3 linked regions of the Homo sapiens genome follow. The protein of the gene in region 1 purifies or fractionates together with the protein of each later gene. This does not show direct contact. Each region holds a gene or a part of one and is shown in the gene's direction. Other genes may lie near its edges. The genes, in order: AKR1C3, HABP4 and CMBL.

What was found.
Region 2: the proteins of AKR1C3 (region 1) and HABP4 purify together in Homo sapiens (affinity purification with mass spectrometry; one large-scale study listed by BioGRID and IntAct). This does not show direct contact.
Region 3: the proteins of AKR1C3 (region 1) and CMBL fractionate together in Homo sapiens (co-fractionation; one large-scale study listed by BioGRID). This does not show direct contact.

What each region holds. Positions count from the first base shown.
Region 1 is NC_000010.11:5,100,825-5,104,477, forward strand, and holds part of AKR1C3 (aldo-keto reductase family 1 member C3), read left to right. Parts: intron 1-1,276; coding exon 1,277-1,386; intron 1,387-1,660; coding exon 1,661-1,826; intron 1,827-3,653. UniProt on the Homo sapiens protein: Cytosolic aldo-keto reductase that catalyzes the NADH and NADPH-dependent reduction of ketosteroids to hydroxysteroids.
Region 2 is NC_000009.12:96,456,618-96,460,270, forward strand, and holds part of HABP4 (intracellular hyaluronan-binding protein 4), read left to right. Parts: intron 1-1,761; coding exon 1,762-1,924; intron 1,925-3,653. UniProt on the Homo sapiens protein: Ribosome-binding protein that promotes ribosome hibernation, a process during which ribosomes are stabilized in an inactive state and preserved from proteasomal degradation.
Region 3 is NC_000005.10:10,287,403-10,291,055, reverse strand, and holds part of CMBL (carboxymethylenebutenolidase homolog), read left to right. Parts: intron 1-274; 5' UTR 275-293; coding exon 294-508; intron 509-2,526; coding exon 2,527-2,634; intron 2,635-3,653. UniProt on the Homo sapiens protein: Cysteine hydrolase. Can convert the prodrug olmesartan medoxomil into its pharmacologically active metabolite olmerstatan, an angiotensin receptor blocker, in liver and intestine. May also activate beta-lactam antibiotics faropenem medoxomil and lenampicillin.

The sequences.
Region 1 (3,653 bases):
GATTCAACATAACCATTTATATTCAAAATTGTTAACACTTTGCCACATTGCCAAATATTTATGGCAAATGTTTATGTGGGTATATCTGCATAAATACATATAATATTTTCAAAATCTCTTTAAAATAAATTGGAAAGATGACAATTCACCTCTATAGACCTAAATAAAGTATGTCACAGAAATGAAGACATTCTTCCAGCTACAGTATAATTATTGTATCTAAGGAAACGAACTGCAATGCCCTCATGTCGTTTAACATCCAGTCTATATTTGAATTTCCCACTGTTTAATGGAAATGTCTTTTATAGTGCTCCCTTTTAAAACAGAATGGAAACAAGTTGTGAGCTGATCTGTTCTTTATAATCATAGGTTTCCCATTCAGCAATTACTTATAATCCACTGGGTGATAATTCCTAACAGAAGAAGTCATATTCCATGACAAATTTTCACATATGATTGTGTAAACATCACTAATACTTTTGTATTTAATGGTTATTTATTATTGTATTTATTATTTTTTGGAGTTTTTAGATAATCATTTTCAATTTTAAAACCTTATTTAACTATTCTTACGTGACATTTTACTATGAAAAAAAATCCTTCACCAAATCAAAATGAAGAACAAATATTCCTCAAAGACAAAGTTTAATACTTGCCTCTAAATATCAATTTCCTAAGAGATTACTATAATAACCACCAATGGTGGAGGCAAATTATTTTGTTCTTTCTTGCTCTCTGATTATCTCACTCATTACTCTGGACTTGGACATTTTTCCTTAAGATTTTTAATTAATTTTATTAATTTTTGTTAGTGCTCATTCTTACCCAATGGGTAGATTTTTTTCTTGATGCTGAAATCTATCCAAACATCACCAGTGACATTTCTTTGAAAGTAGTGCTTTTGTCTTTCAGACTTGCACTCACGAGTCCTTGACCAAATTCTTGCTTTCTGGCACAATCTGAAGCCCAAAGGCTCTAAGAATCTTACTGTATCCCAGATATGGAACTTGTTACATCTCCTTCTAGTTGTCAAAGGTCTTTGGAAGCCAGGATCTGATTCATAGATGAGCTTCTGTTCAGAAATGGCATTTCCATTTATACTTTTAGAAGATATATAAAATTTATTTCTATGAAAAAGGTTATTACTTGACAATAATATCCTCAGCTCAAATATAATGCTATACTGATTATTATTCAGCTTCCTTACTTTCATCTTTTCAATATTAACATAACTATTTCATATAAATTGATGCTTCTCTCTTTTGGTCAACTGCAGGTAGAATGTCATCCGTATTTCAACCGGAGTAAATTGCTAGATTTCTGCAAGTCGAAAGATATTGTTCTGGTTGCCTATAGTGCTCTGGGATCTCAACGAGACAAACGATGGTAATAAAAACAATGGGACCTTTACATAAACCTTCATTTTGCAGAAAATTTTTTAGTCAGAGCATCCTCAGTTTCCTGTAGTTAAGTTTCAAGTGGCTCATGGAGAGGAAAGAGAATTGCATTTCTGACGAGATCTTGGATGATGCTGATGGTGATGCTCGGGGGCCTCGCTTGAGAAGCTCCGGTGCAGAGTGGATGCCTTAGTCTGTTTAGGGAGCCGCCTAACAAACTATCGCCAGCCTCAGGGCCTCAGCCTTTCTGCCTTTCCTTCCAGGGTGGACCCGAACTCCCCGGTGCTCTTGGAGGACCCAGTCCTTTGTGCCTTGGCAAAAAAGCACAAGCGAACCCCAGCCCTGATTGCCCTGCGCTACCAGCTGCAGCGTGGGGTTGTGGTCCTGGCCAAGAGCTACAATGAGCAGCGCATCAGACAGAACGTGCAGGTGAGGAGCGGGGCTGTGGGCCTCAGGTCTCCTGCACAGTGTCCTTCACACGTGTGCTTCTTGTAAGGCTCTCAGGACAGCCTTGGGCCAGCTCCATTTCCCTGTATTTCCCATATGAATGCTTTGCGTGCATCCTGAGGGTTTCTTCTACTCTACCACGGGAGAGGCAGCACAGGTGCAGAGAATTAAGATGGGACCAAAAATGGAGATTTTTTTATTTCAGCATTAAGTTGACAATCTACTCTGCATCCCTGCACCAGGAACATCATTTTTTCATGTTGTTTGTTTGGTTTTGGTTTTTTTTTTTTGAGACAGAGTCTCATTCTGTCTCCCAGATGGGATGATTCTCCTGCCTCAGCCTCCTGAGTAGCTGGGATTACAGGTGCCTACCACCAAGCCCGGCTAATTTTTGTAATTTTTAATAGAGAAGGTATTTCACCATGTTGGCCAGGCTAGTTCCAAACTCCTGACCTCAGGCAACCCACCTGCTGTGGCCTCCCAAAGTGGTACTACAGGTGTGAGCCACCGCTCCTGGCCTCCTCTTCATCTTCAGAAATGTGGAGTAGCATTAGGTGTTCTTTAGTCTACCAGTCATTGTGGATTTTTCATTTCCATTTCTTCGTACGCTCAGTTAAAATTTCACATATTTATTCACTTGGAGTTTTCTGTTTGTGTACTGCCTGTTTAAGTCTTTCTTTGACTCTTAGTTGCTTGTCTTTTTTTTAAGTATAGGAGACCATAATTATACTATTAAATAGAGCTGTTAAACAAATCACCCTCAACATAGGGGTTTAAGATGAAAACCACTGATTTACTCAGGATTCTCTAGTTAGAAAATTAGCATGGCCTCAGCCTGAACTTAGTCAAGTTCTGTTCTTGGCTGGGCTCTCTCATGTGTTTGCAGGACAACGAGATAGCTCTGCTTCAAGATGTCAATGGGACATTTGTCTGGGTGCCATTTTCTCCTCCATATAGTTCATCCTGCAGCCATCCAGCCCAGACTTCACCTCAGCACATGGCATGACCCCAAGGCAGTGAGTGGACACATGCAAAGCCTTTTCATGTCTAGGCTCAGGGCTGCCACGCCATTGCTTCTGGCAAATATTACCCACATTACAGGACAGGCCAGACTCAAGGGATGGGTAAACAGACACCACCACTTATTGGAAAGAGCTAGAAATTCATATAACCAAGCAAGTGGATACAGGGACATGTGAGTGTTGGAGGAAGTGTTTCTTATTAATCTATGATGGATTAATATATGATAGGTTAATATATATGATAGATTGATATATATATTATAGTTTAATAAGATATATGAGATAGATTACACATACATACATATATATATTCTGGGTATTAATCGTTTAGAGATTTAGATGTATTATTGAAGTACCACCTCCCAAATTGCATATGTGCTGTGGTTTTCTCTGTAGTTATGTATTCATGAACAAAAGTTGCTACTTTTCATGTAGTTAAATTATTCATGCCTCTTTCCTGTGGTTGATGAGTGGCATGTCTTTTCTTATATTGGGAACATGACAATCTTTTAATATGTTATCTTGCAAAATTGGTAATTCTCTTTACTTATAAATTAGTTGTAAATTCAAATGAATTTCTTTTTCAATACTAAGTAAAATAAAAACCCAAATATGCACATGGAATTTCTAAATTGATATCAAAAGGTGCCACCAACAATTATTGAAAAGCATTCACATTTGCTCACATATCTTGATTTTTTACTCTACCATAAATGAAACATTCATTCACAAATAATATTCTTGCCTCTCTTTTGTCTTCAATTGACTTATTTACTTTTCTGTACTG
Region 2 (3,653 bases), on another chromosome or scaffold:
GGCGTGGTGGCGGGCGCCTATAGTCCCAGCTACTGGGGAGGCTGAGGCAGGAGAATGGCGTGAACCCGGGAGGCGGTGCTTGCAGTGAGCCGAGATGGCGCCGCTGTACTCCAGCCTGGGCAACAGAGCAAGACTCCATCTCAAAAAAAAAAAAAAAAAAAAAATATATATATATATATATATATATATATATATATATATATATCCATTAACTTGAATAAATGTCATAGCTATACAACTAATGTGGAGAGTAATTTGTACCAAGAAAAATTGAAGCCACTATAGTAAATATTGCACATAGTGAGAGGAGATCTTTTAAATGTATATAAAAAAAGATAGACTTTTTTTGAAGATTAAAGATGTGACAAAGTTCTCCACAATGTATTTACCAAGTATTAGATGGCTTCAAACATAGACTTTGCTTAAGATGTTTAAAGCATTAAAACTAAAGGGGAGTAAAGCAAGGTGACAGGACAGAGGAAAAGACCAGAGTCTCGGCCGGGCACGGTGGCTCACGCCTGTAATCCTGGCACTTTGGGAGGCTGAGGAGACCAGCCTGACCAGGTTAGAGAAACGTCGTCTCTACTGAAAATACAACATTAGCCAGGCGTGGTGGCGCAGGCCTGTGATCCCAGCTAATCTCTACCCGGGAGGCGGAGGTTGCAGTGAGCCGAGATCGGGCCATTGCACTCCAGCCTGGGCAACAAGAGTGAAACTCAGTCTCAAAAAAAAAACACAAGAACAAAACCAGAGTCTGTGGTCCCAGCACAGTGTCCAAGTGCTGGACTGAGTGGACAAAAAGAGATGCCCTCAAGTACTGGCTGACTCTTGGGCAAGTTGCCAAATAGCAGTGTTTGGTTCATATTCAGGAAGTTATAACTGCAAGTCTATATATCTCATAGAATAGCAGGAAAATCTGTTTTCAAAGTAAAAATATAAGCACTACAAACTTTAAAAACAAAAACCTTGGCCAGGCGCTGAGGCTCATGCCTGTAATCCCAGTGCTTCAGGAGGGTGAGGTGGGTGAATTGCTTGAAGCTGGGAGTTCGAGACCAGCCTGGCCAACATGGTGAAACCCTGTCTCTATTAAAAATACAAAAATTAGCTGGGCATGGTGGCACATGCCTGTAATTCCAGCATCTTGGGAGGCTGAGGCATGAGAATTGCTTGAGCCTGGGAGGCGGAGATTGCAGTGAGCCAAGATTAAACAGTGCACTGCACTTCGGGCTGGGTGACAGAGCAAGACTCTGTCTCAAAATAAGTAATTAAGTAAATAAATTAAAAAAATACAAAATAAAAACAAAAACCTTAGTAGCCAGTGATAAGCCATAGTTGCTATGTAATGTGCAGTTGGGATTCTAAAAGTACAGTCTGAAATATAGGGTATTCTTTCATTTTCTAGGTACGGCTTACACACTGTGTTTTTGTAAGACTGCTTTTGTGAACTGTAGCTTATTTAGTAAAATGTACCCATGGCTGTCACAGTTATTGGGAGATGCCTGTAATTATAGGTGAGCTTAGTTGGTCATATACTTTCTAGGATATAGGGAAAGCATGATTTAATAGTAACATCCTATTAAAAAGTAGACTGTGGGCAGTTGTAGTATCAGCAACTTTTTTCTTTGAAGTTTTCTAAACTTCCTGAATTCTCCTATGACGTTGATTTCTAGAAAAATGAAATTTACAAGTACCTGTAAAGTTTAATAGTGTGCTGTTGCAGATGTTGTGTTCCAGCTCTCTGCTTTGATTTTCTGTTGGTAGGCCAGAAGCGGACTCCTAGAAGAGGGGAGCAGCAAGGATGGAATGACAGCCGTGGGCCGGAGGGGATGCTCGAAAGAGCTGAGCGGAGATCCTACAGGGAATACCGACCCTATGAGACAGAGAGGCAGGCAGACTTCACAGCTGAGAAGTTTCCAGATGAAAAGTATGTGCTGCAGTCCTCAGCAGGGCGGGTGGGGAACCAGAAAGGTTTTGAGAAAATGCTACTTTCTTTTTCTTTTCTTTCTTTCTTTTTTTTTTTTTTTTGAGACAGTTTCGCTCTTGTCGCCCAGGCTGGAGTGCAATGGTGCGATCTCGGCTCACTGCAACCTCCGCTCCCGGGTTCAAGCAATTCTCCTGCCTCAGCCTCCCAAGTAGCTGGGATTACAGGCATGTGCCACCACGCCCGGCTAATTTTGTATTTTTAGTAGAGACGGGGTTTCTCCATGTTGGTCAGGCTAGTCTTGAACTCCCAACCTCAGGTGATCCACCTGCCTTGGCCTGCCAAAAGTGCTGGGATTACAGGAGTGAGCCACCATGCCCGGCCCAGAAAATACAACTTTCTACTGGCTACTGCTTTTTGTGGTACCAGTCCTAGGAATGTTTTACTAATTTATGTGCAATTCATGTTACCTTAGATGATGGGAAGGATCTTCCTTTTTCCTCATAGATGCCTTTACGTCTTGGTTCAGGAAATGATTGTACAATTAAAAATGAATTGCTTGTTGGTAACTGAAGAGCACTCTTAAAAAGAAATTACACAGGAGTGTGTTGAACTGGTTTTCTTTTGAAGTTCTAGATTAGAGATATAATTTTGGACTAGGGATATAATTATGGTTTTTGATTTCACATTACCAATTTAGACTGCTCAATGGATTGAAATAAATTCCTAGCTCCACGGTCAGGTCAGTAGGCTGCCATGATGAAATTTGAAGAAGAGTCTGTTATGATGTGTAATACCAATTTCTGGAGGGCATGGCTGCTCTCCGAAGTACTCTAACATGGACAGAAGTCGTGGGCTGGTGGAGTGTTGCGTCGCTGCTTAGTGATGTGGCAGCATGGTGGCCACCGCACTCCACCTCAACACGGGGAGGGGTTGTGTCTTATGTTTGGCACTTGCTGCTTAAAGTCTTTGTTTAATCATTAAACCTGTTTATGTTAAACAGAAACAAGTAGTGAATCACATTTCAAGGAAAATAAAGTTAAACAAGCTAAGGAAGACTAGAATAGTGAACAGTTATATGTCAAGGGAGCCATTTTTCCAAACTCTTTCTGCTTCTTGACTGCTAATTCCATTCCATTTAGGATTCTGGCTACAAGTTTTAACCAAAAAATGTGGCTTTGTAAAACTATACTATAGAGCCTATTAAAAACAAAACAAAACAAAAGTCCAGCAGAGAGTAACTTAGCCTGGGTGGGCTGAGCAGGTGATGACTCATGCAGAACTGTTCACCTGGAAGTTACACATTCAAGACATTGAGATAGTCTATCTGCAACCATGTTGGAGGGAGAAACTTACAGAAAGCCTTAATTTTGCACCTTTTTTGGTGATTACTTCAAATCTGCTGTGTAGTAAGCACAGTCTCCTTGTTTCTGCAAAGCTTCTTGTAGCAGAGCTGCTTATTTTTGGAAGCATTTGGGTATTTATTTTCCCCTCACTTTAGGGATTCTGTGGAAATGAGGAAATTATAGTTCACTTGCACAAACCCATGTTTCCCCCCTTTTTTAGTAGCAAGACTGTGTAGTCTTTAAAAAGGATAAAATAGATCTTTATATGTGACATGAAAAAATAGCTATTAAGTGAAATAATACATATATGGAAGAGTAAGGTGGGATATGGAATTATGGAGGGGTTTTTTAATTTAAATAAGGTCAGAATTACAGAAAAGTTTTAA
Region 3 (3,653 bases), on another chromosome or scaffold:
CTCCGATCCTGCCCCCTGAAGAGTCCCTTTTCCCTGTGAGTTCTTTCATCGCTATTTTTTGTTGTTTTGTTGTTATTCAATCCGGCATTTCTAGTGTCTATAGCCTTACTCTGCAGTGTTGCCAGAACCAGAAGTTACCATTGGTTTCTCACATAATACCATAGATGTAGCTAAAATGAATTTTTTTCTATAATCTTGATTTGAGGTTTACTTACCATTTATAGCCTTTAGATTTGCAGCATTCAGAATATAACGCATGTTTCTCTCTCCATAGCCCGACTTAAATCTCTGCAATGGCTAACGAAGCTTATCCTTGTCCGTGTGACATTGGCCACAGACTTGAGTATGGAGGGCTAGGCCGTGAAGTTCAAGTCGAGCACATCAAGGCTTATGTCACCAAATCCCCCGTTGATGCAGGCAAAGCTGTGATTGTCATTCAAGATATATTTGGCTGGCAGTTGCCCAATACCAGATATATAGCTGACATGATCTCAGGAAATGGATACACGTATGTATAAAGTTGTGTTTCTTTGTTTAAATTCATACAAATTTCAGTGGTTTATTTTGTTCCCTTTAAAAAATAAAACCACAGCGGTCTGACTATACAGTATCTACTGTACATTAGAAACTTCCCTATCTCACTGCCGTGAAGATAGATGGGAAATGTCTTGGGAAATTAAACACCCACCTGGTGCTCCTAACCCCATTCCTGGGTTTCCTGTCCTCCTGGGAGTACCTGGCCTTTAGACTTGCTGGACATTGAGAATTCTTTTCCCGTGTGGGGCCTCAGCCAGACGCAGGCACTGGACATCTGAGGCCAGCCTCACCTGCTGTCAAATGGACCCGTGACTCGGTCCTTCAACAGCTCAGCCTCGTGTCAGATTTCACGGCCCATTTGGACGGCAGGGTGTCCAAGGCTCCTCCTGGTCCATACACGTACGGTCGTGGCCCCCTCTGAATTAGACTGGGGTTCAGAAGTGGCACAGTGAGACCTTGCTCCCCTCCCCAAGTTTACCTCTTTGTCTGGCCAAGTGGCCATGGCCACCTTTGGCCAAGGCTGATACCCGATTGCTTCTTATTTGCCCCGGTGTAAAGCGCAGAGGAGGGCCAGAACCTTCCTTCCTCTCCAGCGTCGGAAAGCATCAACCCAGTGAGCCCTGAGGATGGTGCACGGCTGGATTTCCTTTGTTTTCACAGAAGGAGAAGCTGGAAACCCGAGGATGAGCCTACCTTGTTTTTCTAGGAAGAGAAACTGGCTTAAAGGAATCATGCCCACCCTGGTGGGATGCAGAGTCGGTGCTGAATGAAAAGACCTTCCTTGAAGTTTTCCTTTTTCACGTCCCCATGTGAGGGGACTTAACTTTCTAGGGGCAAGCCCAGTAAAAATAAATAAGTAAATAAATAGCTAGTTTCAGTTGCTCAGCCAGACGCAGTGCTGAGGGCATGACTGGGCTCATTGCCCTTAGTCCTCCTGGCAGCCCCTTGAGGGAGGAGCTGTTATTGCTCTCATTTTGCAGATTAGGAAACCAGGCCATAAAGAGAGCGCTTTGCGGCTGCCCCAGATCACTGGCCCAAGCAGCCGATCAAATGGCATTGCTGTTTCTGTTGTTTCACGGAGGGTCCTTTAGCAGGGGTCAGGACATAAAAGATAAGGAAAGACCCCTGTTTTACAAAGCCCTTTCACAGGTATACAACTTTTTTTGCCCTCGAGAGGATCCTCTGGGGTTAGGCAGTGCAAGTTTGTCAGATGAGAAAATGAGGCTAGAAGCGGTGACATGACTTGTGAAGGCCAAGGCCACACAGCAGCATGGGGTGTACCGAGCCTCGAACTTGGATTTTCTCACTCCAGTTTCAGTGTTCTTCTACCCCTATAGGAGGAGCCCTGTTCCTCCAACCAGGTGGCAATTCTATTTTGGGAAACAGGACTCAACCCCAGCGGCTGGCTCTATCCCTCTGGGTTGACTTGCATGGAAGAGCGACCTGGACTGGGGCCAGGCTTGTTTGTGCTCTGCTGCCCGTCTTAGAACATACCCTCTGGATAGGAAACTGTGCTTCGTCGCCGTCTTGGTGGAGGCTGGGAACATTGCCTGGTCATAGTGACTGGACAAGTTAGCCAGGTGTGCCCTCTGGCCTGAGGCTCATGTGAAAGGCCAGGAGTCTCCCCAGGCTGGCTGAGAGGGGCAGGAGGGGCCCTCAAAGCCACCCACGTCAGGCCCACTCCCCCAGGTGCCTCCACATCCCATGCCAGCCTATCCCATGGGAGTGTGCCCTGTGGATAGCCTCATTGCCAGGGCTGGGTTACCAGCAGGCTGCCAGACGCTGTGCACCTGCGGTTGTGAAACCTAAGAGGGCTTGGCCCGGTGCCAGGTGGCTGCTTTGCTGCGATCAAAATTGGCCTTCACACCCACTACTTTTCCTTTTCTCTGAGCCAGAATCGCCAACGTAGCAAGTTTTTAAATAAATGCAAGCAAAATACTGAGTCAAGCAACTCTGAAACTAAGATCAATTCATGTCCATATTTTGCAGAACCATTGTTCCAGACTTCTTTGTAGGGCAAGAGCCTTGGGACCCCTCTGGCGACTGGTCTATCTTCCCTGAGTGGCTGAAAACAAGAAATGCCCAGAAGATCGATAGGTGAGTTATCCGCAGACGTGGCCATGTGCACGTTGTGGCCCAGGGAGGTGAGAGCTGGGTGGGCTTCACCTTTCAGACACTACTCCTTACCTTGGGGTAGGACTTCTCCATGGCCAATGGAATCCTTCCCCTGGCACAAAGGAGAAAAAATTTTTTTTTGTTTTTGCTCTGTTGGAGCCCAGGCTGGAGAGCAGTGGCATGATCTCGGCTCACTGCAACCTGTGCTTCCCAGGTTCAAGCAATTCTCCTGCCTCAGCCTCCCGAGTAGCTGGGATTACAGGCGCCTGCCACCAGCCCGGCTAATTTTTGTATTTTTAGTAGAGACGGGGTTTCACCATGTTGGCCAGGCTGGTCTCAAGTGCTGGGATTTTTTTTGTAATTAAAATTTTTAGGCCGGGCATGGTGGCTCACACCCGTAATCCCAGCACTTTGGCAGGCTGAGGCTGGCTGATCACTTGAGATCAGGAGTTTGAGACCAGCCTGGCCAACATGGTGAAACCTGCCTCTACTAAAAATACAAAAAACAAACAAACAAACCAAAAACTTAGCTGGGTGTCATGACGCACGCCTGTAGTCCCAGCTACTTGGGAGGCTGAGGCATGAGAATTGCTTGAACCTGGGAGACGGAGATTGCAGTGAGCCAAGATGGCACCACTGCACTCCAGCCTGGGGGACAGAGCGAGACTCCATCTCAAAAAAAAAAGAAATTAATTAATTAAAAATTTTAAAATAAAATAGAGATGGGGTCTCACTATAGGCGTGAGCCACTGCACCCAGCGGGGATAGCATTCTTTATGTGATGATGATCAATATCAAACAATATTTTTATGAGCACCATCTATGAAAATAGAGATTTTAGTGCATCTGTCACCGAGTAGTGTACAGTTTACCTAATATATAGTTTTTTGGCCCTCACACCCTCCCACCCTCCCCCTTCTGAGTCTCCATAGTCCATTATATCACTCTATGTGCCTCTGTGAATCTACTCATAGCTTAGCTTCCACTTATAAGTGAGAACA